Homo sapiens: one gene and its partners. The protein of the gene in region 2 purifies or fractionates together with the protein of the main gene of each other region. This does not show direct contact. Each region holds a gene or a part of one and is shown on either strand. Other genes may lie near its edges. The genes, in order: DHX36, PANK2, KIF13B, RASGRF2 and QRICH2.

Region 1 (3,500 bases), on a different chromosome or scaffold from region 2:
CAAGTATTATTTTGAAAAAGTACTTAGGTCACTTAAAATGTGAATAATCCAACCACAATGATTAAAATTCATCAGCTACCCATTACTTTATACCTTGGAATAGGGTTTCTTGACTTTAGTACTACTGACACACTGTTATGACAACCACAAGTATCTCCAGACACTTTCCAATGTCCCCTTTGGGGGCAAAATCATGCCAGTTGAGAACCACTGCCCAAGAACAATGTCTGCACTTTGGCCTATCTTTAAAGTCTTTATTTTTTCATGTTTATAATTCTAGAATATCCAACTTTCATTTAACATCAGTTTAAATACTTTACATGTTACTACACAATGACTGTTTTAATGCCCACCTATGGAGATGCATTACAGTATTATAAAACCACAATTTTCCCATGGCTACTAGAAATCTATATTATTTACAATATAGCTGTTAGAAAACATTTGAAATTACTTCCTTAAGACACATCTATCAAATTAAAAACTCATGCACTGGGTCACTGACTATTTTAATGATTCAATCATAATTCTAATACAGAGTGTCTTCCAAAATAGCAGCAACCACACTACTGGCCATTTGTGACTCTTAGTTTCTCTGTATCCTTTAGCTAGAATGAGCTCATTCTAGCTCATGCTTCACTGTTGTCTCCAATTACTACTGAGGCTACCTGTAAATATATTATTACACTTTATTTCTCAAAATAGTGAAATCACAATGTTATTCAAAGAGCTAAGTTATCCATTTATAAGGCAAGAGGAAAAAAGTTTCTGAAATAAAATCTACTCTAAGCAATTTTTATCCAGCCACTGGTATTTACTAGCAGGCTGGCTCTTCTAATATTTACACTGGTATCATGTGGTAGCATTCTTTGTGAATAATGGGTTATCAAAGAGGTGATTCCAGGATGTGTTGTGAGGGAAAGTGATACCAATGGCTAAACAGTTCACCTTCTCTGAAATGATTAAAAGAACAAGAATATAACCCACATATGAATAAGAACAAATTTATAATATAAGCCTTGTTACATGAGCAGATTTCAAAAGTTTAAGAAGAGAATTACGAGTAATTAATAATAATCTTCAATGCTTACATTTTTCTTTTTTTACCCAAATTTAGTCGAATTTTAGCAACTTTGGGATATAAACCAGCACAGATGACAGCTTTAATTATCTTCTCATTATCTATGGGGGGTGAGAAGGTAGAGGGGAAAAGAAAAGTAAAATACTGATACAATAGACAAAAGATACTTATTTACACTGTGTTTCCTGCTGTACCTGAATTTATATTAGATTCTGGATCTTTAGGATTTCTACTGCTTACAAATCCAGCTCCAAGAAGATGCTCAGCAAACTGTCCTTTCATGTTATGCAGCATCTAGGGAGCAATGGTAACAAATAGAACTAGAATACCTTTCACACATTGAGGCTATAAACCATACACTAATAGATAAATTGAGTTGTAAGCTATCCCTGCTTTATGAAAACACTTTAGCAAACATGTTTTAAAGCAAGGGTTGGCAAACTACAAAAGCTGTTTTTGTCAATAACATTTTATTGGAACACAGCCACACCCATTCATCTACATTTGGTTGTTTTTGCACTACAATGGCAGAGGTCAATGCTTGTAACTGAGATCTTATGGCCTGTAAGCCTAAAATATTACCCGACTTTTCACAGAAAAAGTTTGCATGTTGTAAGGAATAGCCACTGATGTTTAAGGATTACTCTATTTTGTGAAAGACTAATAGAATTTTTAAAATTACTTTCCACCCCCATTTTTTAAAAAATATAGAAAAGCATAAAGAAAATAATCCACATCCATATTTCTATTACTGAGAATTAAATATGGTTAAAAATGGCAGGTAAGCTTAAGGTTTTGTTTTTTTTTTAAATAATGATACATGGCTTATTACAAAGCATTCAAGTAACATAGAAAAGTACTTCCCTTGCCTCAATACTCAGTCTTCTAAATAAATAAGATTGCAGACACCCATTAAGTATATATACTGATAGAAGAAATGCATCCTAATAACAGAATCATAGTATAGAAATTCTTTATAAAACAATTAACTTTAGTACAATTTAAAGAAAAGTTAAATAGAAAGGAAAGTGAATGACCAGATGAATCTTGTATTTTCATAACAGAAATATTTCCTAAGGAATTCCTTTTAGAGATTATGAAACATAAAGTTGGTTATATTTAAGTATATATCCCTTTTATGAAAGGTGTGACTTTCCCCACCTAATTTTTCTGACACCTGACTTTCTTAGACACCTCCTGGTTTTTACTGCCATTATTTTATACTGTTCAGGATAATAATCTTTACATTCTATTTTGCATGTGTAATTCCTAACACCATTTTGTTATTAGCTCTATATTTAAATACTTCTAATGTATATACACCAGCTGATTAAGCATGCACTCTCCATTCCTGAAATCTCCACTGTGATTCCCCTTTTAACTAACAGCATTTCACCGTCAATGGGCTTTTCAAGAAGAGCTCAGGGGTACAGTATTTCTTGAATGCCTGTTGTTTTTCTTTACACCTGAATTCATATCCTGACTGGACATGACATTCTCAAACACTTGGATTCAGTTATGTTTTCATGCTTCTGTTCACTTCTCTGTTCATTTCATTATTTCCATTTCAAAACGTGTTCTTACATACATCTCAAAATAAACGTTCAATTACACAGGATTTGTATGCAGACACTAATGTCTACTGTTCTCATAATGGATGAGTCCTGTCTTCCTGTCTTTAAGATTTTACTTATTGCTTTAATTTTTGTCTTTTTCAGGTACCTCCATAAACTGTGATTACTTCAAGCTTTTTTCCTATGGCAATAACTTGTTTTTAAGGGGTGTCCATTCTGTTCCTTGTGATTTCTTTTGATCTTCAATTTGTTTTCTTAGCTCAGGTGTCTTTTCATTCACTCTACTGTTTATTTTCTAACCTATGTTTTGCTGAATTCATATTCTTATTAGCTATTCCATATTATGAAACAGTTTAAAGGTGTTTTCTACTGAAACATGGCATTCCACTCTTTTTTTTTTCTTTTCCTTTCCTTCCGAATTGTGGTGATCCTTTTTTTCCATTTTGCTAATGACTGGGCACTTCTGATTTGGTATGTTAGATTTTTTTGTTTACTAATTTGTAGATCTGTTAAATGTCCAGTATCAGGCCTCATGTCACATAGCTGGAGTGTATGTGTACTGGGAGAAGATGAGGATATTTCTATTCTCACTGGCTTCGAATACCCAGTTCAGTGTAGTCTGAAATGTGATGGCATATGCCCTCTTTACTGTTTTCTTCTGTTTTACAAATGCTTGCCTGTGGTGTTTCACTATACTAAACCAGAAAACTTACAGATATCTATCCTATTTGATACTTTTCAACAGATTTTAGTAGTGTTAGCAAAAATTCTCAGTTTGAATCATCAAAATAGCAACTAGAATGTGGGGACAGGAACAGAAATCGAACCCTACTGTGCCTTGCTCT
Region 2 (7,286 bases):
GTGGAGCACTCTGATCACAGGGCTTCCACACCTTCTGCACACCTGCTGCACATATGCTCAACACCTGGAGCCCTTGATAAAAATGTATGTTCTCTTGTTACATGAGTGTCTACATTTGCCAAAATTGTACATTTTACTCTATTTAATTATGCCTCAATAAAATTTAAAATATAATTTTAGACCCCTTTGCAGACCTATATCATGCAATGGTAGGTTGAGGGAAAGTTTTAAAAACTTGAGAACCACAGCTCTGGATTACATCACACATACCTTCCCCCACCCCAAAATGTGGACCAAGAACACTGGATCTGAAGTCAAGACACCAGGAATCAAAACCCAACTCCATCACTAACTCACTATATGGCCTTGGACAAAAGGACAATTTCACTGAGCCTGTTTTCTCATCTGGAAATTGGGGATAAAAAACACCTACCTCACAGGATAGCTATGAGACTTAACCAAGATGCTTATAAAATACTCGGCATAGTGTCCAAGACAAATAAGCACTCAGAAAATGGTAGCTACATTACCATCATTAGCGTCTTGGTTTCCATCATTTTAAAATCAATCTTTATTTGGTATTTCTTTCAGCCCTGCGAGACATACCCCCCTCCCCACCTGATGCAAAACTTTTGAAGAACTTAAATATACACATGCCTAGCCTCATCGCTAGGGATTCTGATGCAGTAAGTCTGGGACAAGGGCCGGTTTGGGAACTACACTGCTCTAGGAAACGCGTGACAGAACACGACTACAACCAGGACCACAAGAATGCCTAAGATAACCTGAATAGCTCCTTCGACTTTCAAATGACAACTAGTATCTATCTGCACCTTTAGACAAGTAGTGCGGTATCAGAGTAAGGCTTTTTTTTTTTTTTTTTTGAGACAGAGTCGCTCTGTCGCCCAGGCTGGAGTGCAGTGGCGCGATCTTCGATCACTGCAACCTCTGCCTCCCGGGTTCAAGCAATTATCTGCCTCAGCCTCCCGAGTAGCTGCGACTACGGGCACGCGTCACCACACCCGGCTAATTTTTTTGTATTTTTAGTAGAGATAGGGTTTCACCAGAAAGGTGGCACCATTCCATACCCAAACCTCCCAACAATAAATAAAAAAGATTTAGTCTTAGTTGAATTCTCTCAGAGATAAGACTGAAGTATACTCTAGGAGGGTTCGGCAGTCAACAAGCTGCTTCTCCTTTTTTTTTGTTTTTTTTTTGAGGAGTCTCACTGTATCATACAGGCTGCAGTGCACTGGCACAATTTCGGCTCACTGCAACCTCCACCTCCCAGGTTCAAATGTTTCTCCCACCTCAGCCTCCTGAGTAGCTGGGATTACAGGCATGCACCACCACGCCCAGCTAATTTTTGTATTTTTTAGTAGAGACGGGGTTTCAACATGCTGGCCAGGCTGGTCTCTGGTCTCGAACTCCTGACCTCAGGTGATCCACCCGCCTTGGCCTCCCAAAGTGCTGGGATTACAGGCATGAGCCACTGCGCCCAGCCTGCTTCTCCACCTAACAGGGGCACCCCTAGATAGTACAGAAGAAACAAATGGAAGGAAGAACAATCAGTATCCTGTTCATTCCTTTAGCAGGTCTTATACTGGAAAGATGGGTTTTCATGATTTATCAGCCAGAGAAGATAATGAAGGGAATCACGACAAACATCAAACATCAAAACAAAATATAAATCCTATAGCATGAATATGTGTCTACTTAGTTCCCTAAAATAAGTTTCAAAACTACCTTAATATAATTCTCCCCACCCAGTGTAAACCGGTTTTTCTGAGTGTGGTCTTTGAGTCACCTGTATTTGAATATGAGGAGCTTAACTGGGCCCACTGAATCTGCACTTTTACCAGGTCATTCTCATGCTCAATATTTGGAAGTACTTCCACAGTATCTAAAAATTTTCGCCTCAAGTAAGTCAGTCTTGAACACAAAAGATCAAACTTATGCTTGGTCTTAGAGCAATGAAGAAATAACTAACAGAACGTAAATAATTCAGAAAAACACAGTGGTCCACCGCAAAAGCTATGAAGCTAGCAATTCTGAGTTTACATTTCTATTTCACAACGCACTAGCCATTTGACCGGGCAAACGTGTCCCAGTTTTCTCATCTGTAAAATGGAATACTACCACCTACCTCAGAGCCACGAGGCTAATGAGTTACCAAAGCTCTTAGTAGACGACTGCCAGGTCGGGCACAATGGCTCCCGTCTATATCCCAGCACTTTGGGAGGCCGAAGTGGGAAGATCGCTTGAGACCAGGAGGAATTCAAGACCAGCCTGGGCAACATAAGAGATCCCATCTCTATTTAAAAAAATAAAAATTGAAAAATTAGCCTGGCATAGTGGCACGTGCCTTTAGTCCCAGCAATGCAGGAGGTTGAAGCAGGAGGATGGCTTGAGCCCAGGAGGTTAAGGCCACAATGAGCCATGATCATGCCACTGCACTTCAGCCTGGGCAACAGAACAAGACGCTGTCTCAAAGTAAAAAACAAAAAACAAACCAAAAAAACCCTTGTGGCTAATGGCTATACTCTTATTTGCTGAATCTTTGGAATTTACATCCATTTCCAACGATGTAATACAAAACCATGAAGGATCTCATATTTTGCATTGCTTCAAACTCAGGTGCTTCTCAAATAAAACAAAACTAGGTGACTGACTCTGAAAATGGCACAGGTTAAGAATCTGTTTTCCAAATCTGTTGCAAGAAGATGGAAAAAGACAAAAGAACTGAAAACTCCCAAACTTTTCACAGCAAAATAGAACTACATTTAATCATCCATATCAGAGAAGATTCAAAAAAGCAGTTGGGTGACTGGGCTAAGGTAGAAGACTATTCAATAAAAATCTCACATCTTGCCATTTTCCCTCCCTCTCACAATCTGCATTTAAACAAGTCAATTTCCTGAAATAGGAATCTGGCAACACCCACCAAAAAGTCCAACCATATGTAAAATGGCATCACACTGTAAAGCTCATATTACAGTATCAGGACAATTGATACTTTCAACAGCAGCAATGGCTGCCAGGCAGCGGTCCTGAATTGAAGACTTGTAAAGGGGAGAAAATACACAACACAGAAAAAGAAACCTAATAAAATGGGGAAACGGATTCTCTGGGAGGAGCGTATGCAACTCCCAAGGCAAAATTCAGAAAGATGTTGTTTCCCCTCAAAACAAAGAGCCTTAATGCCCAGAATGCCACAGTTCTGAATCGTGAGTACCTGCAAATAGACAGAAGGAAAACGGAGGGGATATGTGGGTGAGAGATGACCTGGATTCTCACGAGAAGAAGGGCAGCCACCTTAGAGGTGCACGGAATACAGTTTCAGGCCTGGTGCAACTCAAGGGGCAGTTCACCATTTTCCAGTAAGCCCGAAATTGACGAATAAAAGGGACTTAAAGTATTAGAGAGCAGCTCTTTGGAAACCCACGGAAAACAAACATTGGGGATTCAAAGGATTTGGGAGGAAAGGAGGTGGAAATGAGTCAAAAGAAGCCTTCTCGAGGATAAAATCATGTGACCCTCAGGAAGAGAATGCCCAAGGAGCTAAGAAAAGGGAGGACAGGTCCTGGGGAAAAGCCCTCCACTCCAACAAGCGGGAAGTGCATACCAATGGGTGCGGGGGGGCCCCCGAAGGTACCGCTTTCGGAGCACCCGAGGCCTCCAGCCGGATGTCAGGCCACGCACCAACGAGGGACCACCGTGCGGGGACAGTGTCCGCGCGCGGGAAAAACGGCGGCGGGGCCGGAAGGGGACAGGGTGGGCCGGAAGGGGGGGCAGGGCGGGCCGGGAGGGCGCCCCACGGAACACTTACGCGGCCGCTTTTTCCTCAGGCTTTCGACGCGCTGGCGGGAGACCGAGGTGGGGCCGCTGTAAGAGCCCAGTCGATCCCGCCTCGTGCCCTCAGCCGAGGCCCCGACCGCGGGCACCGACGCGCTGCTCGCCCGGCGCCGCAGTGGCTCCTGCCGCCGCCCTTCGGGGTCCCCGGCCGCCTGCTCCCCAGCCGACGAGACGGAGGTGGCGGAAGCCCTGCCGTGGCGCTCCATGGGCGCGCCGAGCCGGCCCCCTCCCATCCGCAGCAGCAGTCGCTGCCGCCCGAGCAAGCCCCCCAGCGTCGGATTCCTTCTCGCCTCCTCCGCGGCAGTCCAGCCAGAGCAGAGGCGCGCCCTCGGCCGGCCGCCTCTTCCGTTGCGCCAACGCGCAGGAAGCCAATCCGACGAGGCTGGGGACGGCCCAAAGGCCTCGCGTCCAGTCGGCTCCCTAACTCGAGGAGGATTGACCGTGCCTCCGTCCAATGAGAGGCTATCGTGACGGGGCGGGGAGAGGGTGGTGGAGGAGGGGATCCGGGTTCCGCGGAGGAAGAGAAGGCGGTGTAGCCCAGAAGAGAGTGATGGCGGCGCCGCCCAATGGACGCGTGGGTGGAAGGGCCCGAGCCTCCTCATCCACCCCCTCCTTCCGCCCCCCACTTGTGCATGCCTCTGCCCCCCCGGGCCGCGGAACTCTCCTGGGGCGACCCCGAGTCCCACCCCGCTGCTCCGTGCCGTCCTCGCAGCTCGAGCCCTCCTCCAGCCCAGCAGTGCTCCCGCAGCGTCTGGCCGCTGGTCGTCGGCAGACGAAAGGGCTTGAACCGCGGCTGACCTTAGCCTTTGTCCCTCGGCCTAGTTCCGCAGCTGCCGTCGAGGCCGCCAGCCCCTCCCCCAGCATGTTTGGGCTAAGCCGCCTCCTTTCCGCCTGCGTTGGAGAGAGAGGTACCAGAAGGAATGAAAGGACTGGGGCTTGTCTCCATGGCAACTGAAAGAAAGAGGTGGGTTATAAATCCTTCGCCACCCTCCTGTGGCGAAGGAGGGGAAGTGGGAGCCGGGAAGTAGAGTTGGCCTTTTGCAGGAGAGTCTGGAGCCCCTTTCTGGGTGATGCATTGGGGGCCATAGAAGGATTTGGCTGCCGCTTTGGAGCATGGATTTTTTTTTTAATCATCTTCCTTTCTCTTTTGGAGAGAAAAATTGGTCACCTCCAGGACTGAGACCCTGACCCTTCCAAGCATCCCCACTACCAAAGGCTGCCCAAGCCCGGAAGGATCCCATCCCGTTCTGTACTCTGAGGTCACTTCCTCACTCCGTCAAATTTCACTGGACTGTGGGCTAATTAAAAGTGCCTCCGTATTAGCGGGGCGTGGTGGCCCATGCCTATAATCCCAGCTACTTGGGAAGCTGAGGCAGGAAAATTGCTTGAACCCGGGTGGCGGAGGCTGCAGTGACCCAACATTGTGCAACAAGAGCGAAACTCCGTCTCAAAAAAAATAAAAAATAAAAAAGAGTGCCTCCCTGGGGAGACTGTAATGCCCACTGGGCAGTGATCCTAATGCCCCTTGGGCAGTGATCCTTATTCCCCTCTCCCATAATGATTGGTTGTAGCAGGCTGAACAAAAAGGTTGAGCTTCGCTTGTGCTTGCTGAATAGAATTCTCACGCCCACTCCACGTTAGCTCCCCTCACTGTAGGACTAGCTCTGAAAATTCTAGCTCCTGTAGGAAGCCAACACAGACGGATCTACAAGAACCAAAAACAGCTATAGCTACTCTTCTAAATCTCAGTGCCTGACATTGCCTCTCTTTCTGCCTCCTCTCTCCACCCCCCAAAAAATGTGGTCCTCCTTGACCTGAGGGAGCTTCCGTCCAAGTCTGAGCTCTGATCATCCTGAAGAATCAAAGTATCATCATCCCTTGGCTGGCAAGATGAACTCCAACATCAAAACACTTGAAACAGTAGTATTTTTACACAATTTGCCCACTGCCTCTACATCTCACTTAGTCCTTGCAGTAACATTTGGATGATGAGGTAACTTATCCAGAAGCACAAAGCCTAAAGAATGACAGAGCTTGGACTCCTGAGAAGTTCAGCTACTGCCCGCCTTATGATAACCAAAAGAAAGCGGCCGGGCGCAGTGGCTCAACTCCTGTAATCCCAGCACTTTGGGAGGCCGAGGCGTGCGAATCACAAGGTCAGGAGTCCGAGACCAGCCTGGCCAACACAGGGAAACCCCGTCTCTACTAAAAAAAACAAACACAAAAATTAGTTGGGCGTGGTGGTGGGCACCTGTAATCCCAGCTACTTGGGAGGCTGAGGCAGGAGAGTCACTTGAATCCGGTAGGCGGAGGTTGCAGTGAGCCGAGATCGTGCCACTGCACTCCAGCCTGGGAGACAGTGAGACTCCGTCTCTAAAAAAAAATGAATAAATAAATAAGAAGGCACACCACAAGTTCGAGACCACTTCTACAAAAAATAAAAAATAAAAAAAATTAGGCCAGGCACAGTGGCTCATGCCTGTAATCCAAGCACTTTGGGAGGCTGAGGCGGGCGGATCACTGGAGGTCAGGAGTTTCAGACCAGCCTGGCCCAACATGGTGAAACCCTGTCTCTACTAAAAATACAAAACTTAGCTGGGCGTAGTGGTGCGTGCCTGTAATCCCACTTACTCCAGAAGCTGAGGCAGAAGAACTGCTTGAACCTGGGATGCAGAGGTTGCAGTGAGCTGAGATTGCACCACTGCACTCCAGCCTGGGCAACAGAGTGGGACTCTGCCTCAAAAAAAAAAAAAAAAAGAAAATGAAGATGACCAAATGGGCTTCTAGATGGCTAATGATATTCTGTTTCTTTGATCTGGGTGGGGGTTACATGGGTGTGTTCCCTTTGTAATATGTTATCAAGACATTTTGTGCACTTTTTTGGGTATTATACTGAAAGAAAACATTTATTTTTTAAAAAGTTGAAAAATTGCCTTGGAGCAGAGTAAGGTAAATCTATGATTAAGCTTAGATTTTTTTATTTTTTATTTTTTATTTTTTTTCAAAAAAAATGAGGCCAGGCGCGGTGGCTCACGCCTGTAATCCCAGCACGTTGGGAGGCCGAGGTGGGCAGATCACGAGGTCAGGAGGTCGAGACCATCCTGGCTAACACGGTGAAATCCCATCTCTACTAAAAATACAAAAAATTAGCCAGGCATGGTGGCAGGCACCTGTAGTCCCAGCTACTCGGGAGGCTGAGGCAGGAGAATGGCATGAACCTGGGAGGCAGAGCTTGCAGTGAGCCAAGGTCACGCCACTGCACTCCAGCCTGGGTGACAGAGCAAGACTCGTCTCAAAAAAAAAAAAAAAAGTAAAATGAACCTAACAAGAGGCATCCTTTCTCTGTGGTTATTATAGTGAGAACTAAGTTCTTTATCACTCTCCGGTTATTTACCCCTAGAGAGAAGCCAACTTTCTGGTTGTATACACCA
Region 3 (6,681 bases), on a different chromosome or scaffold from region 2:
CACGTAACTTACTCCCTTCAACATCAGCTTCAATTCTAGAGATGTTTACTGGGAAAGAGGACTGGTTCTAGGATGAGCTATGAATTAAGAGTCAGGTTTAGGCCTTCTTCGCTTCACCTCACCTCCTTCTCACTTGTACATTGCACCTGCGCCCCTCGCTGACTTCCTGTCCCCCAGCACCTTCTTTTTATAAGAACTGTTCCTGCAGGGATTCTCAGCCACCAGCAGGTCTGGCTCACTAGCGGGTGTTTGGAAATGGAGGAGGCGATTTTGCATTATCATGAGTGGGGGAGGCTCTGCTCTACTTCCAAAATTTGAAAAGGAACATAATACTTACCATCTAAAGACCTGCAGTTCTCAAAATCAGCTATTAGGTTGGTGCAAAAGTAATTGTGATTTTTGCCATTAAAAGTAATGGCAAAAACTGCAATGACTTTTGTATCAACGTAATACTAGGATGAAGCTGGGACTTACCATGCACACCAGTTTGTTCTCCTGGGTCTCCTTCTCAAAGGAGACCTCTGCCACCTCATCGCCTCCTGCGATCCTCTCCCCAACATCACCACTGAGTCGCATCACCTCCACGTGCAGCCGACCTGCCACCTGCAGCAATGAGGGAAGGCAGAAACATTTCTCCAGATTTGGTTCGTGCTCCCTTGAGATGACCTCTCTTCTCTTTTACAGTCAAGTTGTCAGGTTAATGGTGTATGGGAATTTAGAGGCCTAGTCTCTGACAGTTACTCTACCCTAAGAGTCCTTGGAAACACAAGGTATTAATAAGACACGTTACTGACAAAAAATAGCAACAATATCCCATCACCACCCTCTTGTTTCTTAAACTATTCTCTACAGGAAACAAGGCATGAAGAGAAAACCAACCTCTCCTTTCTGGTTGATGATGGGAACAGCGTATTGTAACTTCACATCATAGAAAAGTGACTCGAGGAAGACATTGGCCACCCCAATGAGACTGTGATTTTCCTGCTCATCATAGAATGGATCAGCACGTTTGAAGTATGATCGTATTACCTGTAAAGAGATTGAGAACACACAACTTCAGAAAAACCATTTACAATAAATGCATTCAACCTACTGCTTTTTGATGCACTCTAGGTTATTAAACTTAACTTTCATCATCCTAACTCTTGTATTTTTTAGAGTAAAACATTCTAAAGTTTTTGCTAAAGCACAGCGCTGTATTACTCCCATACACACTCTTCCTCATTCCCATTCACAATGGAGGTGAGCATCCTCCACCCATGACAGAGCGATCCCAGTAACAGGTCATTACTTTTATCAGCTATTCTCCTTTACATGGAAATTTTGCCACAAAATAAACAATATATGTTGACCAGAAAAAGAAGTAGAGTGTGCTAAACTACACTTCACCTTTCTTTTGGGAAAGACAGTAATTCTTATCTGCTCTGCTTATTCCTAGCAAGTCATCAGATAAAACTGCTGCTAATAAAAGGTGAGCCCTCACACCTATAATCCCAGCACTTTGGGAGGCCAAGGCAGGCGGGTCACCTGAGGTCAAGAGTTTGAGACCAGCCTGCCCAACATGGTGAAATCCCGTCTCTAATAAAAATACAAAAATTAGCCAGGTGTGGTGGTGGGCGCCTGTAATCCCAGCTACTCGGGAGGCTGAGGCAGGAAAATCACTTGAACCCAGGAGGCAGAGGAGGCAGTGAGCCAAGATCGTGCCACTGCACTCCAGCCTGGATGACAGAGCAAGACTCCATCTAAAAAAAAAAAAAGGTGAGCCCCTATGGGAGTGGCTCTTTCATTATTTATTACTGTTGTTTTATTTCTAAGTTGAAATAGGAGAGGGGTACCAAAGAGACAAACATGTTTTAAGCAAAAACATCACCTAACTATAAGAAACATTTTTATTGATAACAATCTGGAAAAATCATTTTTACAAAACAAAAGGCAAAGGAAGTAAACAACTCTATGCGGAAACAGGTCTAACGGTAATGAAAATATGTTCAGACATACATAATATGCACTTCTATTTTAAATACGTATGAGTACATGGCTGATCTAAGTAAGAAAACCTGCAAGTTAAGGACAGAGTACCAATGTATAGATTTATGGCATTTATGTTATGATCAAAACTTCTTCAAAAATGCTCCTTGGAGTGTAAATATTAAGATACCACCGATGTTCAACTTACAAAACATATATTGTAGGTTTATTATCTGCAAGGTTAAACGGGTTGAGCAATGGGAGGAGAGACAAATAATGAGGCCTGGCCTCTGTCCTAAAGAGGTTCCCAGAGAGCACAGGAGACAGACACCCGCACACCAACAGAAGTCAGAATGGAAAGTGGAGAATTCTGCTAGAAATCTAAAAGACAGAAATGAGAAGAAAAAAGAAGATACCAGAAAGAGAGATTATTAAAATTGTTAATTTGCTAAACAATTTAGGGGATTAAAATAAACCTTACTCCAGAAATAGGATTATAATTTTGGAAAAAGAACAATTTTCCCCTGAAATGGGTAGACTCATTCCAGCTTGGCTCCTTCCATAATTACCAATTAAGTGATTTTCTCTTAAATAACTTACTGGGTTATCTTCTTCACACTCTTTCCACTCCTGATAAAGGTCTCTCATATCCAACAGCCTGTTGTCCAGTTTTTCCAAAGACCAAATCTGCTTTCCTTTTCCTTTTCTTCTCACCTGGATTGCAGGCTCACTAAGAAGAGAGCCTCGCTGCAAAGAGAGTAAGAATGACCGTGAGAAACACACAGGCAGCGGGGAAGTCAAAGCTGACAATTCCACCCCCATCAGTCAAATGTCATTACACCAAAACTCAAATGGCAATCATCCTTTAATCTGTTGATTACAAAGCCTCCAAAAAGTCTTACAAGCTATAACATAATACCTTCCTACCCAAGTGCAATCAAAACCTATTTATAAACTTCACTTTAAGTATAAACTTACATTAAAAATTTTTTGGGGGGAGTTGCTGGGCATGGTGGTTCACGCCTGTAATCCCAGCACTTTGGGAGGCCAAGGCAGGTGGATAACTTGAGGTCAGGAGTTCAAGACCAGCCTGGCCAACATGGTGAAACCCCTCTCTACTAAAAATACAAAAATTAGCCGGGTGTGGTGGCACGTGCCTGTAATGCCAGCTACTTGGGAGGCTGAAGCACAAGAATTGCTTGAACCCAGGAGGCAGAGGTTGCAGTGAGCTGAAGTCTTGCCACTGCACTCCAGCCTAGGTGACAGTATGAGACTCTCAAAAATAAATAAATATATACATGTGTGTGTGTGTAAAGAGACAGCATCTCACTCTGTCACCCAGGCTGGAGTGCAGTGGCACGTCATAGCTCACTGCAGCCTCGAACTCCTGGGCTCCAGTGATACTCCTGCCTCAGCCTCCCAAGTAGTTAGGACCACAGGTGCATGCCAATACACCCAGCTAATTTTGTCTGTTTTGCATAGAGACAGGGTCTTGCTATATGGCCAAGGCTGGTTTGGAACTCCTGGCCTCAAGTGATCCCCCTGCTTCAGCCTCCCAAAGCACAGGGATTATAGGCATGAGCCACCACATTTAAATTTTGACTGTAGTTGGAAATGATTTTAAGTTTAAAACCCAAAAGACCACATTTAACAGCAAGTTGAAATAAAAGTATTTTATTCAGGCCACCATATGACCACAACGTTATCAATGGGGAGAGAGGGAAAGTTTGCTGCGGTGTATGGGGAAGAAACGTCCCTCTCAGAGGCTGAATTTTGTTTTATTGTAATGGATGGCATCTTCAGGGGGTATAAAACATGAAACACTTAAAAGAGTAAACTGAAAAGTCCCCGATTCACCCACGTGGAAGCAATTAATGATACCAGTTTCCAAATATGCATTGTTTGGGTTTCTTATTAAGATCATACAGAACTAGATGGAAGCGGTGCTCACACCACATTATTACCGTGCCAAATGCCACTGAGTTATTCACTTTAAAATAGTAATGTTTGGCCAGGTGTGGTGGCTCACGCCTGTAATCCCAGCACTTTGGGAGGCCAAGGCAGGCAGATCACAAGGTCAGGAGTTTGAGACCAGCCTGGCCAATATGGTGAAACCCCGTCTCTACTAAAAATACAAAAATTAGCCAGGCATGGTGGTGGGCGCCTGTAGTCCCAGCTATTCAGGAGGCTGAGGCAGAAGAATCGCTTGAACCCAAGAGGAGGTTGCAGTGAGCCGAGATCGCGCCACTGCACTCCAGCCTGGGCAACAAAGCAAGACTCTGTCTCAAAAAAAATAATAATAATAAAATTAAAAAAAAGTAATGTTCTATTATGCAAGTATCACACCTCCCCCCCAAAAAAAGTATGCTCTGAAGTTTTTCCAGCTTATAAGAGCAATGTGGATTTTTTTCAGAGTAGAACTTGAGCAATGTGTTTTTAATGTAGAAAAAATTTTAGAACTTTTAAAAAACCACAAAGTTAAAAAAAAAAAAGCCCCTATACATTTCCCCGAGGGAGACATATCTACTGGTTATCTAATCAATTTAGGTTTACTGGCTTAATTTTTCAAATGTTCTACTTAAAACTGAAGAGAACTTTGAAATACATTGATGTTTCATTAACATCTTGCCTACAATCATTTTCTAAGAAAAAAATTTAAATAATAAAACAAACATTTGAGAATTCTTACGGTCAAAATGCGTGTGTGTGTTTTTTTTTAATTGAGACAGAGTCTCTTTCTGTCGCCCAGGCTGGGGTGCAGTGGCCCAATCTCGGCTCACTGCAACCTCCGCCTGGGTTCAAGTGATTCTCCTGCCTCAGCCCCCCAAGCAGCTGGGATTACAGGCGCCTGCCACCACGCCTGGCTGATTTTTGTATTTTTAATAGAGATGGGGTTTCATCATATTGGCCAGGCTGGTCTCGAACTCCTGACCTCAGGTGATCCGCCCACCTTGTCCTCCCAAAGTGCTGGGATTACAGGCATGAGCCACCATGCCCGGCCATCTTACAGTCAAAATTAAAGGCCCTCCTACCTTATATTCAGCCAGCCAGTGAATAAATACAAAAATCCCATTTGTGACCTGTGTGGGTAGTGGCTTTCCTGGGGGAGAATGCTGGACCTGGGACTATAATAGCAACGGGCAATATGGTGCAGCTACCATAACTTAGCCCTCTTGCAAAACTGGAAATAAGAAAAAAATTCACCAGAGAAGAGTTCACAGAATGGACAGGACTTTAAACAACTTTTCAAATACCAAAAAATAGTCTGTTGCACGAAAGACTACAGAGTCAGCCTAACTAAGGAGAGATGCCAGGCGACATGAGTTCTTCCAGGCGTTGACATGGCTGCCCCAGTGCAGAGCCACACCTTTCAACAAAGCCCAAAAGAGGTTACGGAGAAAAGGGCTGCGGTCATGCTTACTGGGGAAAAATCTTTCAGGTTTCTGCTTTTTTCAACTTATACACTATAAAATCAAAGAGGATCTTGTACTTCTCAGCCTTCAAGGAGAAACTAGGCCCTGAACCTTCTCCTTGTGACTGGCCTTCCTCTTCGGTTTTTGGTGAGTCCTACTGTACCCAGACTTTGCCCTACAAATACTAGTGTTCTAATTAAGTAAAAATTTTCAAAATACACACAGAGTATACAAAAACAATGATCTGTAAAGTAACGATCATATCATATTTACAATACCTTTCTCAAAATACTAAGAATCATATTTGCCAAATATCTAACCCTGTACAAAACGCTGACCTTGATGCTATGATGTCATAGGGAAAGATGTAATCCTTGCTATCAAATTAGAATAATATCCGCCTGTAATCCCAGCACTTTGGGAGGCCAAAGCAGGTGGATCACTTGAGGTCAGGAGTTTGAGACCAGCCTGGCCAACACAGCAAAACCCCATCTCTACTAAAAATACAAAAATTAGTCCAGCGTGGTGGCACACACCTGTAATCCCAGATACTGAGGAGGCTGAGGCAGGAGAATCGCTTGAACCCAGGAGGCAGATGCTGCAGTGACCCAGGATCACACCACTGCATTCCAGCCTGGGTGACAGAGTAAGACTCCCTCTCAAACAAAAAAAAGAAAAATAGAATATCCAAGATGGATTGATTAAAGTTTTGCTGTGTTGACTACCGCAGGCTAAACAGAACACACGGATCCACAAAAAATTCATCTGAATAGAAAATTCTACCTAATCCATCAAAAATTATGTATGAATGTGATCAAGAGCTAGAAAAGAACCTCAAAAAAAAAAAAAAAAGATGAAGGAAAAAAACCCAACTGAATGGCAAAGATAGAAGATTGTGATGGGACTTTCCCCCTACATTTTATTAAATTTATTATACCAAAAAAAGTATGATCCTGAATATATACATGACACCATGACACAACTAATGAGCAGTTTTACAGAGCAAGCTATTCCAAGTAGAAAATAACATAAGCAAAATGAACACCTAACTTGTGGAGAAGGGGTTGTAGAGTGGTAGCATAAGGAAGGAAAAAAAGACATTCGGGGAAGATTAATCAGAAAAGACTTCTAAGAAAGAATTTAAACAGATTTGAAGGAAGAAAGTTGAGTGAAATGAACTGTCAGGGCCAGGTGAGATGCAGAGTATATTCCCCTAGCAGATAAAATATACATACACTCAAAGGTAGAGAATGGAAAAGGAAGTCAATTCTACCCAAAAGCATGGAGGACAAAGGATCTG
Region 4 (6,681 bases), on a different chromosome or scaffold from region 2:
AACCACTGCAGTTATTTTAGGGGTAGACAGGAGTCTTATTTCAGAAGCCCCTCCTAGGTGGAGCCTGGTGACTATTAGGCCAGGACTCTACCCTGGCGGCTTCTCCTCTCTCCACCACCCATTCAGGAGCGTTGAGCTGCTGTGCAATGGACTGAGCTGTTCCAGGTAGTAGTGAGTTCTCTGTGCCTGGAGGTATCAAATATAGGCTGGGGATGTCACAGGAAGAATCTAAGCACTGCAAAGAAAGTGTGATTAGTTGATCCTTCGTATCATTTCAAAGCTTTCCCCAAATTCTTTGAATTTTAGGGCCTCTTCTAAACTGTTTTTCTCCCTGAACTTTAGAAGTAATATTTAGAAGTAAATAATATATCTGAAGGAGTTCACTGCTATGAAGAAGATGTAAAATAAAAATAAAGCCCCTAGGCCCCCAAGCAAAACAAAACAGACTCATTGTGGTAAAAAGAGACCCCAGGAAACATTAAAAACCAGATTCTACAGCTTTGGCAAGGCAAGAGGTCAGTCACACCCAACGCTCTCCCACCTCGATAACTGCCTCAAGACTTTCTTTCCTAAAATTAAACTAAAACCAGTTACTGAAAAACTATGTCTGGAAGATTTCTTCCTCAACTTCAACAGACAACCTGACGTGGCGAACCCCCCCTTCCCTCAACGCAGTTTCCCCCTGACAAGTGTTCAGCCTTACAAAGCACTCCATCCTCATAACTGACCACAGACCACAGCCGGTTCTGGCCGGTTTACAGAGATTGCACACCAAGCGTCTTTGTGCCCTGTGTTCCATCTTTTGACATATAGAGCCCAATTTTACTACATTTTAAGTCTCCATCCCAAAGTGAACATGGGTTGTATGTAACATGTAACATATATGATTACTGGCTATGCATGCATTAGGGCCTCTCATAAATATTCATAAGATTATCCTATAACCTACTAAATGTATATGTAAGGCTCATCTTGTTGGGCATAAATCTCAGCCTCTCCCTTTTTTATCTGAAGTGCTTGCTTTTGGCTTTGGCCAGAGGCTCCAGCCTGCAGATTGTAACCCTTTATAAGAAATTAAGTTCTATTTTTTCTAAATGTATACATTTCATGGTTTTAAGTTGACAATGTAGAAAAATGGGGGGAAAAAGAGTTAAATGAAGAAACCAGTGAGATTTCTGAATATTCAAGAAAGGTGAAGTTTAATTTGCATATAGGCATAACCTACACCTCACTTGGCAAGTGTTAGGCCACAGCACAAACCCCTCTGTCCAATCACAAATGTCCACAAATTTGCAAAGTAACTGGACACGAACGATATGCTTCTCAAACTCACACACATATTCGTCCATCACACACACACTCAAATGATAAAGAAATACATTGAAATCCTCTACAAAAGAGATCTGAGGACAGTAATCAGATGACCTCATGTGCGGACAGCACTTTGCAGTTTACAGTCTAATCCATTTGGTCCTCACAATAGCCCTGTGAGATAAGCAGCACAGGGATTACTATTCACACCGTTTTGCAGATGAGGAAACTGAGGCTCAGGGATGTGTAAACACCAGCCTAAGGTTTTCCAGTTGGAGACTGGGCCTAGGACTCAGGGCCGGGATGCCTAGGCCAGCTCTCTTTCATAACTGGCTTTCTAGTGAAAAATGAAATGAGCTGTGTAAAAACCAACATCATTAAGTATAATAGAACTATTATTTTCCTTGAGCAGATCAGACTAGTGCTATCAATCCTAATGTTAATGTCATGCTGCATGGCAGCTGAGATGAATAATTTTCTGAATCGTTCATGTGTTTATACCTACAACAAAATGACTGTTTTCCATTTTGGCTCTGCCTCATCTTAATTTTAAGTCACCAATGGCCGCTGAGAAATGACACACTGATTAGATTTCATTGACTTAAGTCTTCTATTACACGGTGGTATCTATAATGGAGCCATTAAACTTACAATCTGATTTCTTACTGAAATGAAAAAGAGTTTTATTTATTGATTCCCTCTGTGCACATTAGCCTGGCTATACCCTTCAGCCATAAATAGTATGTTCTCTTTTATGCCTTTTCGATAGTTGTAAAAATAATACATTTTGCAATTGGATTTTTAAAAACCTTTATACTTTAAAGTGAAGAGATTTTTTTTCAAGGGGATAAAATCAAACTTTGAAAAAAAAAAGCTAAGTAAAATCTCTTGCTTTTAAATAAAAGTTAATTTTATTGGGAATAATCCCTGTATTGCATTACTCTTTTCAGTTAAGAATTTAAAAGCTGCCCAATCGCTGCTGGCCCAAAAGTCTCGTCTTATACAATAACATGAGAGAAAGGGTGCTGATCCATCATTATTCACTCCACATGGGACCATAATGGATTTTTCTCTTCCAGGTGATTCAGTTTCTCTGAGTTTCATTTGTTTATAAGTAGTACTTTAAGACGTACTGAAATTTAACAAACAGTAATGGGACTTGGTATGAGAGCCACTTGAAAATATTGCAATGGCCGTTTAAAATTCCGTCTTTAAATTCCTTCAGAAAAGCACTAAGGAAAAGTGACGACGTTTTACTTCATGCCTGAATCTGTCAAATAATATATTGGATTAGGTAAGAGATTTGTCCCTGTAGCAAAACTAGATGTCTCAGTTAATAACGAAAAGGCATCCCCTAAAAGCTCCAAGATAATTTCGTTGACAGTACAAAATGTGGGCATTCATTCGAAAGCATGAAATTGGATTTTTCTTCTGATTTTCTAGGTTAATTTTACAGTATACATGTTCGCTACTTGGCTGTTAGAGGTTGACCTCCCATCTCCTCTTAGAAATGGGTCTCCATAATGGACTAGAGGCAGATGCAGCTGGGAATGCATGCTTTGTGTGTAGGCAGAAGAGGATGGGTACTTTAACGACCAGAAAAAACACTGCAAATTGCTCTTGGGGATTTTTAATTTGACCAAATTGAAGGGATTTTAAAATGTGCATTCCTCTCCCAGCTGGCACACGAATAGTGCAGGTCATCAACAGACACTCCCTCAGAGGTGGAGCTCTCTCTCTTGCCCTCTTGCAGCTCCAGGAAGGCTGCAGACTCCAGAAAGTGGTGTAATTCTCAAACAAAAATGCGAAAGGCTAGTGAGTGGCACACCCCTGCAGTCCCAGCTGCTTGAGAGGCTGAGGCAGGAAGATTGCTTGAGTCCAGGAGTTCGAGACCAGCCTGGGCAACATGGTGAGACCCTGTTTTTCAAACAAACAAAAACCCCCTAAAAGTCAGCATAGCAATTGACAGTGCCTAATATGACCAGTGCGGGGCAGTTCCAACATCCTGCAGGAAATAGGCGCAAAAGCTTTGTCACTAGTTGAAGAAAAGCTGCGATCCAAAAGGGAAGGAGCATTTGGAAACTCCTGTCTTATTTTTTGTTAATAAGAATGGCTGCAGTGTCTCTGGAACATTTGGGTCAAAGAAATGAGTCCGAACTTCCAGAAAAAGTGCACACAGAACCATCCCTTTCCCTCTGAAGGACTCTGGCAACTCCAAGGCAGAGTAGAATGCATGCACCTTTCCACGTGTTGTTTGGCCCGAAACTAGTATGTGTGTGGTCCTCTCACAGATTTGTCCCGGTTTTAGTTCACCCTTCAGGACTATGCTTTTGAGCCATGAAAGCTAACCTTTACTTTTCTTCTGCAAGACCTTGAGGTGTTTGGTGCAACTGATACATATTATTTCAAACCCTCAGTTTCTGGAGCACTGAGAAATAAATCACAAGTTATGCGTTGTTAGGATCCAAACAGCCCATGCTTCTCATCATGCATCAAGATGCGTCAACCTCTTATTTGAAACTAAAGAGAACAAACAAGCAACTTTAAAAAAGAAAAAGAAAGCATCCATAAGGAACCCTCCTTGGGTTGAGTGCTACACTGTTGGCTAATATGAACTATTGAAAATATTTTGGGAATGGTCTTCAAATATTATATTTTCTTTTACTTAGTTGATATTTCACTATATAGTTACATACAGAGATGGCACTTACCGTGCAGAAAGTGTACATTCTCTACCTCTATGGTGCATTACCAATGCTAGCTCTTTCACTGAGTCTTAAGAGCCAGCAGGTGGAATTTATTAGTCTGTTAGCTCTAGCAACATAATTAAAGTGCAAGGAAAGAGGGAAAGCAGCCAGACAGATCCATTTTTCATTGTCAGCATCAATAAGTTTCATGCTGCTAAGAGAAAATGTCAGGTGCAACAGGTTCAGGGAAATAGAACTATATTTTTTCTCTTCCTTCTTTTAAAGCAGCAGTCTCCCTGAGAAGAGAAGAGGGAGGTAAACAATGAGATAGCCCTATTTCTTCAACAACTGACAATCTTGGGAAAAGGAAGGTCACTTCCCCAGCCTCAGGTAGCAGGACTAACCCTTGCATTTGGTTTTGTAATGTAAGAGCTGTTCGGTGGTTGGGCCCATTTCCCATGCACTTATAATATTCTCAGAGATCTCTCAACATCAGTTTTTAAAGAAAGAGATCTACGAACAGCATATGGAAGTGTGGGTTTTGAAAAGAAAATTTCACTAAACTGTTTAAAAAAAATACAGCCAATGTTCATAGTAAGCCTAAAAAAAGGTCTGTGTAAATGAGAATAGATTCCTGCAGTACTATGAGTGGGGAAAGAAAACAAACAAAGCAAGGTGCAGAGATGATTTTTAGGTATAGATTTTCACTCAGCACTGAAACCCATGATTCCCCACAGCACTTGGTGGCCTTCTGTTCCACAGTTTTGTCGGTGAGATGGGCGTGCACCTTTTTGCAGCTGCCTCTCCAAAAGGGCTGGCTTCTTAGGACCAACAGTCTCAAGGAAAAGCTCCCCACCCACCTCAGCCAGCCACTGTCTGGAATCCTCTGGGGCACAGCCTACTGCATTTAATTAAGGAAATGTTACATACAAATCCATTTGTGTTTCATTCTTTCTTTCCTATCCCATTGCCTAAAGACTGGAAAGGCAGTTTCAGAAGGTACCATTCCTCACATAGAAATATTTAGAATGCACTGACAACCATGCACATGCTGTAGACTGAAATTGCTTATGTTTTGGTCCATCTCTGTAGAGGAAGTGTCAGCTTTTCTGTGAAGCTTATACCAAAAGGAAATGTAATGGAACCAGTCAAATCCTAGAAGATTGGTAGGTGTGCCCAGGCCAGTAAAGCGCCAGAGAAACATCACAGGTCTTTTTCATGGATCCTTGTCCCTGAGTTCTAACAGAACATGGACAGAGTTTAAAATTTACCGATTTACCTGCTTTGTTAAAATGGCAACTAGCATCTCCCATCTGACATTCCCTTATGTAAAACGTGCCACCAGCTTTCTAAATAGCCATCTTTCACCTTCCCACCCAAGTCTGAAGCATCTGTCTTTGACCCAAACAGCTGGGTTTCTCTCTGGAGACAGAATTCCAGTCTGGTTCCATCTTCTTTGGTGGAGAAAGGAGCCTGGCTTCGTGCTGTACCGTGATAGGCAAGGCATACACAATTCTGTCTGTCCTGCTTTCCATGAACATCCCGTGGACTCAGGGGCAAGGCCAGATCTTCAAGCAGGGAGTCGAGGTTCAATTTTTAGTGACAGCTCATATAGCGTATCTTCATCTATGATAAGGTCTTTGTCAAGCAAGTACTGTGCGACCTGAAAAAAAAGGGGAAGTCCCAGCTTTTACCTCTTTCAGACACCAGTGCGTACATTTTCTGACGGAATCTAACACAATTCAACATTTTCTCTTAAACAACTAAAAATCTTATTTGACCAAAAAATCATAAATATGTTTCCATTGTTAAAAAAAAAAAAAAAAAGGTGAACATCTCTAGTCCTCTCTCAACCCCCAATCCCAGGTACCTCCCTCAAGAGGAACTACTGTTACTAATTGGTTTGTTTTCTCCCAGTTGTTTTTCTATGTCTTTATAGAGATTACATGTACTTACAGAAATCATTTTTCCCCCTAAAATTGGCACCATGGTGCACATTTTATTCTGCTTTCATCTCTTAATGATAGGTTGGAGAGAGCTCCCTGTGACAGTAGATAGAGCTCTAACTGCTATACAGTATTAATAGTGCAATATATTGGAGCTTATTTAATAATCTCATATTGATAGATGTTGAGTTGCTGTCAATACTTCACTGTTACACAAAGTTTCAGTGAATTCCTTGTTAGCATGCTTCCTGGAGTGCATGCGTGAATACTCTGCTAGGCTAGGGTAGATATCAGAAGTGAAAGGAAAGGAATTGACACTAGAAATGAATATGTTGGGGCATGGGGGATTTTCATGAAAATATTTCTTTAGTTTTATTGAAATATAACACACAAAAGTGAAATAGATAGTTTGATCTGTTTTGACATGTATACACCATGTAACTTACATACATTTCATGATAACAATTTCAGCATCCCCAAAAGTTCCTTCATGCACCTACTCGGTCAATCTGCTCTTGGAATCAAGCACTGCCCTGGTTTCTATCACCACATATTAGTTCTGTCTATTTTGGAACCTCATATCGATGGGATCATACAGTGTGTACTCCTTCATGTGTGGTTTCTTTCACTCAGCATAGTGTTTTGAGATTCAGCCTTGCTGTGGCCTGTACCAGTAGTCTGCTCCCTCTCATGGCTGAGTAGTAGTCCATTGTAGAGATATACCATAATTTGTTTAT
Region 5 (6,681 bases), on a different chromosome or scaffold from region 2:
GTGGTTCCATACTGCGTTGGTCTGTGCCAGGAAATGTCATACCATGCTGATATGCACTGACTGAAACCAGACCATGTTGGTCTGTGCTAGGTAGTTCCAATCCTTGCTGGTCTCTGCCAGGTACTGATGGTGGCAACATACGTTGCTCATCCACGACAAATGGTATCAATTCCCGATCATCCATTTCAGGTGGTGGCACACCAAGCTGACCCATGCTGAGGGGTACCACACCATGTGGGTAAGTGCTAGCAGGCACTAATCCAGGCTGATTCATGCCAGTTGGTTCTAACCCACGACGATCTGGCCTTAGATGGACCTGACTCTGGCTAGCGGGCACACTACTGGGCTGGTCTCTGGCCAAGGGTAAGTCCTGTTGAACTGGACCAGGACGTGCATTTCTTCTTGGTTGTGTCGAGGTAAGCTTCTCTCTACTCCTGTGACGATCTGAGTCTGATTTGAATTGGAATGTAGAAGACTGATGGAGTCGTGGCACGCCAGCTTCATCACGGGCCCTCGGCTGCTGCTGTCTCCCAGTACCAGAGGGGACCTTGCTTTGTTCCCTACTGGAAACCCCATCAGAGGGGTGTGCTGTGCCACCAGATCCTGATGCAGTCCGATCCGGGCCAAGACCACTGGCAGAATCCAGAGCCTGCTCAATACTTGGTTGCTTGGTAGAGTCTCCGCTTAGAGTCCCTTCAGGTGATGTTAAGGAAGTGAACCCTCCGTGCTTAGAAAATCCCATAAGTGTTTCTGAGCCCTGGTTGGAGAGGAAGAAGGAAATCAATAACAGTCAAAATATTCACTATCAGAGTGGGAAGAAAGGAAATCTGGAAGTTCTGACTAGGATGATTTAGGGCCCCTGGAGAAAAAAGCCCTCTGGTCCTAAAAGCTAAGCTTGACATAAAGAAACACACTGATGGGAGGCCGAGGCGGGTGGATTACTTGAGATCAGGAGTTCGAGACCAGCCTGACCAATATGGTGAAACCCTATCTCTACTAAAAATACAAAATTAGCCAGGCGTGGTGGCATGTGTCTGTAATCTCAGCTACTCAGGAAGCTGAGGCAGGAGAATTGCTTGAACCTGGGAGATGGAGGTTGCCGTGAGATTGTGCCATTGTGCTCCAGCCTGGGTGACAAGAGTGAAACTCCATCTCAAAAAAAAGAAAAGGAAAAGAAACACACTGACGTTCTGGGAGGCTAGGTCTCCATATTTTTGAGACTCTGCATATTTGAAAATGGCATGTACAAAAATATGTAATTTTTGTGGCCAGGTGCGGTGGCTTATGCTTATAGTCCCAGCACTTTGGGAGGCCAAGGCGGGTGGATCATTTGAGGTCAGGACTTTGAGACCTGCCTGGCCAACATGGCAAAACCCCATCTCTACTGAAAATACAAAAATTAGCTGGGTGTGATAGTGCATGCCTGTAATCCCAGCTACTCAGGAGACTGAGGCAGGAGAATCGCTTGAACCCGGGAGGTGGAGGTTGCAGTGAGCCGAGATTGCACCATTGCACTCCAGCCTGGGTGACAGAGTGAGACTCCTTCTCAAAAAAAAAAAAAAAAGTGTAATTTTTCTTCATAAAAGATGGGGAAAACTGCAAAATACAAGTGATCTCTCTGGACTTTTGCTTAGCCTTTAAATAAAGGACATAAGTAATTTATTAAGTTTAAAATATAAAGTCTGGGTCTGGCACGGTGGCTCATGCCTGTAATCCCAGCACTTTGGGAGGCCGAGGTGGGCAGATCACAAGGTCAAGAGATTGAGACCATCCTGGCCAACATGATGAAACCCCGTCTCTACTAAAAACAAATAAATAAATAAATAAATAAATAAATAAATAAAATTAGCTGGGTGTGGTGGCACGTGCCTGTCGTCCCAGCTACTTGGGAGGACAAGTCATGAGAATCGCCTGAACCCAGGAGGCAGAGGTTACAGTGAGCTGAGATCGCACCACTGCACTTCAGCCTGGGTGACAGAGCAAGACTCCATCTCAAAAAATAAATAAATAAAATAAAATAAAATATAAAGTTTGCTCCATTGTTGACCCATTGCTGCTGATAAAAGTGTATACTGGAATGCATGTAAACCATATATTTAAAATGTATAGGCTGGGCACAGTGGCTCACGCCTGTCATCCCAGCATTTTGGGAGACCAAGGCAGGTGGATCATTTGAGGTCAGGAGTTCAAGACCAGCTTGGCCAACATGGTGAAACCTGGTCTCTACTAAAAATATAAAATATTAGCCAGGTGTGGTACTGCACACCTGTAATCCCAGCTACTCAGGAGAATCACTTGAACCCAAAAGGCAGAGGATGCAGTGAGCCGAGATCACGCCACTGCACTCCAGCCTGTGCAACAGAGCGAGACACCATCTCAAAAAGAAATAAATAAATAAAATGTAAACATGCAAACCCATGGACCCAGAAACTCCATAGACAGGAATTTTCTCTATGAATCCTCACCAAAGGATGCCAAGCTATACATACAATGATGGGGTCTGCAGCATCTTGATAAAATAGATCATCAATAAGGGACTGAGATATTTCTGGTCACCAATACAGTAGATGCTATGAATCCATGAAAAAGAAGAATGAACCACTGCCATTTCCAGCCAAGATGAAGTTAACAGGGGCTGGATTTACCCTCCTGTCTGTGACAAGAAAAAACAAAACTGAGGCTGGGCGCAGTGGCTCACGCCTGTAATCCCAGCACTTTGGGAGTCCGATGTGGGTGGATCATGAGGTCAGGAGTTCAAGACCAGCCTGACCAACATGGTGAAACCCCGTCTCTACTAAAAATACAAAAACTAGCTGGGTGTGGTGGCACATGCCTGTAATCCCAGCTACTTAGGAGGCTGAGGCAGGAGAATTGCTTGAACCCAGAAGTCGGAGGTTGCAGTGAGCCGAGATAGCACCATTGCACTCCAGCCTGGGAGACAGAGTGAGACTCTATCTCAAAAAAACAAACAAACCCAACAACAGCTATGAAACGGTGGTTTCCTACATACTGGATATCAAGTTATGAAGGACAATAATCCCCAAGCGGTGGAGAAAGGAAAACTGGGAAGCCTGTATCACCCTGGCTTGCTGCCTTGCTGGAGTTTCCAGACTGCAGTGCAGGGAGGGGGAATTGAGGTGGAGTCTGGCAGACTCTCTGAGTTGAGGAGACAGAAGTGAGCATTCAGGGAGATTCAGGCAACTGAAGGTCACAGGATAGAGTATCAGAAAGAAGGGAGTTATCCAGGCGTGGTGGCTCATGCCTGTAATCCCAGAACTTTCAGTGGGTGGATTACCCGAGGTTAGCAGTTTGAGACCAGCCTGGCCAACAAGGCGAAACCCCATCTCTACTAAAAATACAAAAGTTAGCCAGGCACAGTGGCACATGCTTGTAGTCGCAGCTACTTGGGAGGCTGAGGCAGGAGAATCACTTGAACCCAGGAGGCGGAGGTTGCAGTGAGCTGAGATCACACCACTGCACTCCGGCCTGGGCAACAGAGCATGGCTCTGTCTCAAAAAAAAAAAAAAAAAAAAATAACCAGAAAGAAGGGAGATGACAGAAAGCCCACTCCCACTCCAGAGGTCTGTGGAGGATCCCCTCCGAGTGATGAGCACGCATTTGATGAGTACATGCATGTGGGGAGACGTCCCAAGATTGGGGAAAGAACCACCTGCAGGGCTTGAAGAAGCAGTGCCCTGCCTGCCATGGGGCTGGAAATGGTGCCTGTTCTTATCAACCAGTTTGGAAAAACTCATCATTCAAGTAGCACAGAGCAGAGTGTACTCAGAAAAGTGTTGCCTCAGAAATGGAGAATAATCAGCCCTAGACTGAACACACCTATGGACCCACCTAACAAATCATAAAATCATAAAAGCAAGGCCTGAAGCAATCAAACTGTTTTTAAGTAGCTGTGTCCTGGGGGAAACAGGCTCAATAAAATGTATAAGAATACAAAAATATGGCCGGGTGTGGTGTCCCACACCGGTAATCCCAACACTTTGGGAGGCCAACGCGGGAGGATCACCTGAGTGCAGGAGTTCGGAACCAGCCTGGCCAACATGGTGAAACCCCGTCTCTACTAAAAATACAAAAATTAGCCAGGCATGGTGGCACACACCTGTAATCCCAGCTACTCAGGAGGCTGAGGCAGGAGAATCGCTTGAACCCAGGAGGCGGAGATTGCAGTGAGCAGAGATTGTGCCACTGCACTCCGGCCTGGGCGACACAGCAAGACTCCATCTCAAAAGAAAAAAAAAATACAAAAATATGTACCATCCAATGCAGGAAAAGTCACAATGGCTGGCACCTGATCAAAGATTGCCAGGCATACAAAGAGGCAGGAAGACATGACCCATAATGAGGAGATAACTCAACCAACTGAGACCAACTCAACACTGGCATATGTGTTAGAATTAGCAGAGATGGATATTAAAACAGTTATTATGGCTACACACACACAAGCACACACTTTAGAGACAGGGTCTCACTCTGTCACTCAGTCTGGAGTGCAGTGGCATGATCACAGCTCACTGCAACCTTTAACTCCTGGGCTCAAGCAATCTTCCCCCTTCAGCCTCCCAAGTAGCTAGGACTACTTAGGAATCTGTTTTTTTTTTTTTTTTTTTTTTTTTTGAGACAGAGTCTTGCTGTGTCACCCAGGCTGGAGTGCAGTGGCACAATCTCAGCTCACTGAAACCTCCGCCTCCAAGTTTCCAGTGCCTCAGCCTCCTGAGTAGATGGGATCACAGGCACGCACCACCATGCCCGGCTAATTTTTTGAATTTTTCAGTAAAGATGGGGTTTCACCATGTAGGCCAGGCTGGTCTTGAACTCCTGACTTCAGGTGATCCATCCACCTCAGCCTCCCAAAGTGCTGGGATTACAGGCATGAGCCACGCTGCCTGGCTTTCTGGCTAATTTTTTTTTTTTTTTTTTTTGAGACGGAGTCTCACTCTGTCACCCAGGCTGGAGTGCAGTGGTGCAATGTCGGCTCACTGCAAGCTCCACCTCCCGGCGCCATTCTCCTGCCTCAGCCTCCCGAGTAGCTGGGACTACAGGCGCCCACCACCACGCCCGGATAATTTTTTTGTATTTTTAGTAGAGACGGGGTTTCACCGTGTTAGCCAGGATGGTCTTGATCTCCTGACCTGGTGATCCGCCCGCCTCAGCCTCCCAAAGTGCTGGGATTACAGGCATGAGCCACTGCCCCCGGCCACGTGACCTTTTAAAAACTTTTTGTAGAGACGGGGTCTTAATATGTTGCCTAGGCTGGTCTCAAACTCCTGGCCTCAAGCACTTCTCCCGCCTTGACTTTAAGTACTGGAATTAAAGGCGTGAGCAACCATGTCTGACCTCTTTGTCTTTTTTTTAAGACAGAGTCTCGCTCTGTCGCCCAGGCTGGAGTTCAGTGGCGCGATCTCGGCTCACTGCAACCTCTGCCTCCCGGGTTCAAGCGATTCTCCTGCCTCGGCCTCCCGAGTAGCTGGGATTACAGGCGCATGCCACCACGCCCGGCTAATTTTTATATTTTTAGTAGAGATGGGGCTTCACCATATTGGTCAGGCTGGTCTCAAATTCCCGACCTCAAGTGATCCGTCTGCCTCGGCTTCCCAAAGTGCTGGAATTATAGGTGTGAGCCACAGCGCCCGGCCCTGAGTGTAGTTTTTATTTGCTTTTGTAGCTTTTCAAACTTTCTTTACAGTCTGTCCTGAAATGCAGGGATCTTTCCTTATTAGTGGGCCATGGTGACAGACCCTGGAAATAAAACTTCTGTAGGGGGCCCTCTGCTGATGGCAACTTTTGCACACAGGCATGCATCTGTCTGTCTTGAGACAGTGTACAGATGACCAAATTGTTTTCCGATCGCCAACCTACCTTCACCTGAATAAAATCAAGCTGAATATGTTCAAATGGCCCTCAAAGATGAGGCTTAACTTCCCTTTTGGTCTTGACATCCCTCCCGCTGGCTTTGGGCTAGTGGGTTATCAAAACAAGCAAGCCAACTTTGAGGGCCATTTGAAAATGTAGACGGAAGCAGGGTGAAGAGTAAAGCTTTTGGCGCCACCAAGTGGCCATCTTGGGGAGCGCCAAATATCTGGGTACAAAAGACAACCTGGGATCTCCAGGACCATTTTCTGATTTCAGGGCTCATTCTCAGAGGAAAGCGGCATCAGAAAGATGTTGCAAGAGGGGCCGGGCGCGGTGGCTCCAGCCTGTAATCCTAGCACTTTGGGAAGCCGAGGCGGGCGGATCACCTGAGGTCAGAAGTTCGAGCCCAGCCTGGACAACATGGTGAAACCCTGTCCCTAGTAAAAATACAAAAATTAGCTGGGCGTGATGGTGGGCGCCTGTAATCTCAGCTACTCGGGAGACTGAGGCAGGAGAATCATTTGAACCCAGGAGGTGAACGTTGCAGTGAGCCAAGATTGCGCCACTGCACTCCAGCATGGGCGACAAAGCAAGACTGTCTCAAAAAACAAAACTAAACGATATTGCAAGAGGACCCTGAACACAAAAGGAATGGACTAGAAAAAAGTGGCCTCCACTTTCACTTTTTTAAAGCCAAACCTTTTTTTTTTTTGAGACGGAGTTTCGCTCTTGTTGCCCAGGCTGGAGTGCAGTGATGCGATCTCGGCTCACTGCAACCTCCGCCTTCCGGTGGTTTCAAGCGAGTCTCCTGCC

What was found.
Region 1: the proteins of PANK2 (region 2) and DHX36 purify together in Homo sapiens (affinity purification with mass spectrometry; one large-scale study listed by BioGRID and IntAct). This does not show direct contact.
Region 3: the proteins of PANK2 (region 2) and KIF13B purify together in Homo sapiens (affinity purification with mass spectrometry, with the first as the bait; one large-scale study listed by BioGRID). This does not show direct contact.
Region 4: the proteins of PANK2 (region 2) and RASGRF2 purify together in Homo sapiens (affinity purification with mass spectrometry; one large-scale study listed by BioGRID and IntAct). This does not show direct contact.
Region 5: the proteins of PANK2 (region 2) and QRICH2 purify together in Homo sapiens (affinity purification with mass spectrometry; one large-scale study listed by BioGRID and IntAct). This does not show direct contact.

What each region holds. Positions count from the first base shown.
Region 1 is NC_000003.12:154,279,488-154,282,987, forward strand, and holds part of DHX36 (ATP-dependent DNA/RNA helicase DHX36), read right to left. Parts: intron 1,376-3,500; coding exon 1,276-1,375; intron 1,183-1,275; coding exon 1,092-1,182; intron 1-1,091.
Region 2 is NC_000020.11:3,886,272-3,893,557, reverse strand, and holds the start of PANK2 (pantothenate kinase 2, mitochondrial isoform 7 precursor), read right to left. Parts: upstream 4,128-7,286; coding exon 3,830-4,127; intron 3,743-3,829; exon of another isoform or gene 3,626-3,742; intron 2,315-3,625; exon of another isoform or gene 2,147-2,314; intron 1-2,146.
Region 3 is NC_000008.11:29,139,589-29,146,269, forward strand, and holds part of KIF13B (kinesin-like protein KIF13B), read right to left. Parts: intron 2,716-6,681; coding exon 2,569-2,715; intron 1,030-2,568; coding exon 880-1,029; intron 604-879; coding exon 475-603; intron 1-474. UniProt on the Homo sapiens protein: Involved in reorganization of the cortical cytoskeleton. Regulates axon formation by promoting the formation of extra axons. May be functionally important for the intracellular trafficking of MAGUKs and associated protein complexes.
Region 4 is NC_000005.10:81,224,658-81,231,338, reverse strand, and holds the end of RASGRF2 (ras-specific guanine nucleotide-releasing factor 2), read right to left. Parts: intron 5,662-6,681; coding exon 5,569-5,661; 3' UTR 1,177-5,568; downstream 1-1,176.
Region 5 is NC_000017.11:76,293,265-76,299,945, forward strand, and holds part of QRICH2 (glutamine-rich protein 2), read right to left. Parts: intron 2,159-6,681; exon of another isoform or gene 758-2,158; coding exon 1-757. UniProt on the Homo sapiens protein: Has an essential role in the formation of sperm flagella and flagellar structure maintainance. It acts as a suppressor of ubiquitination and degradation of proteins involved in flagellar development and motility.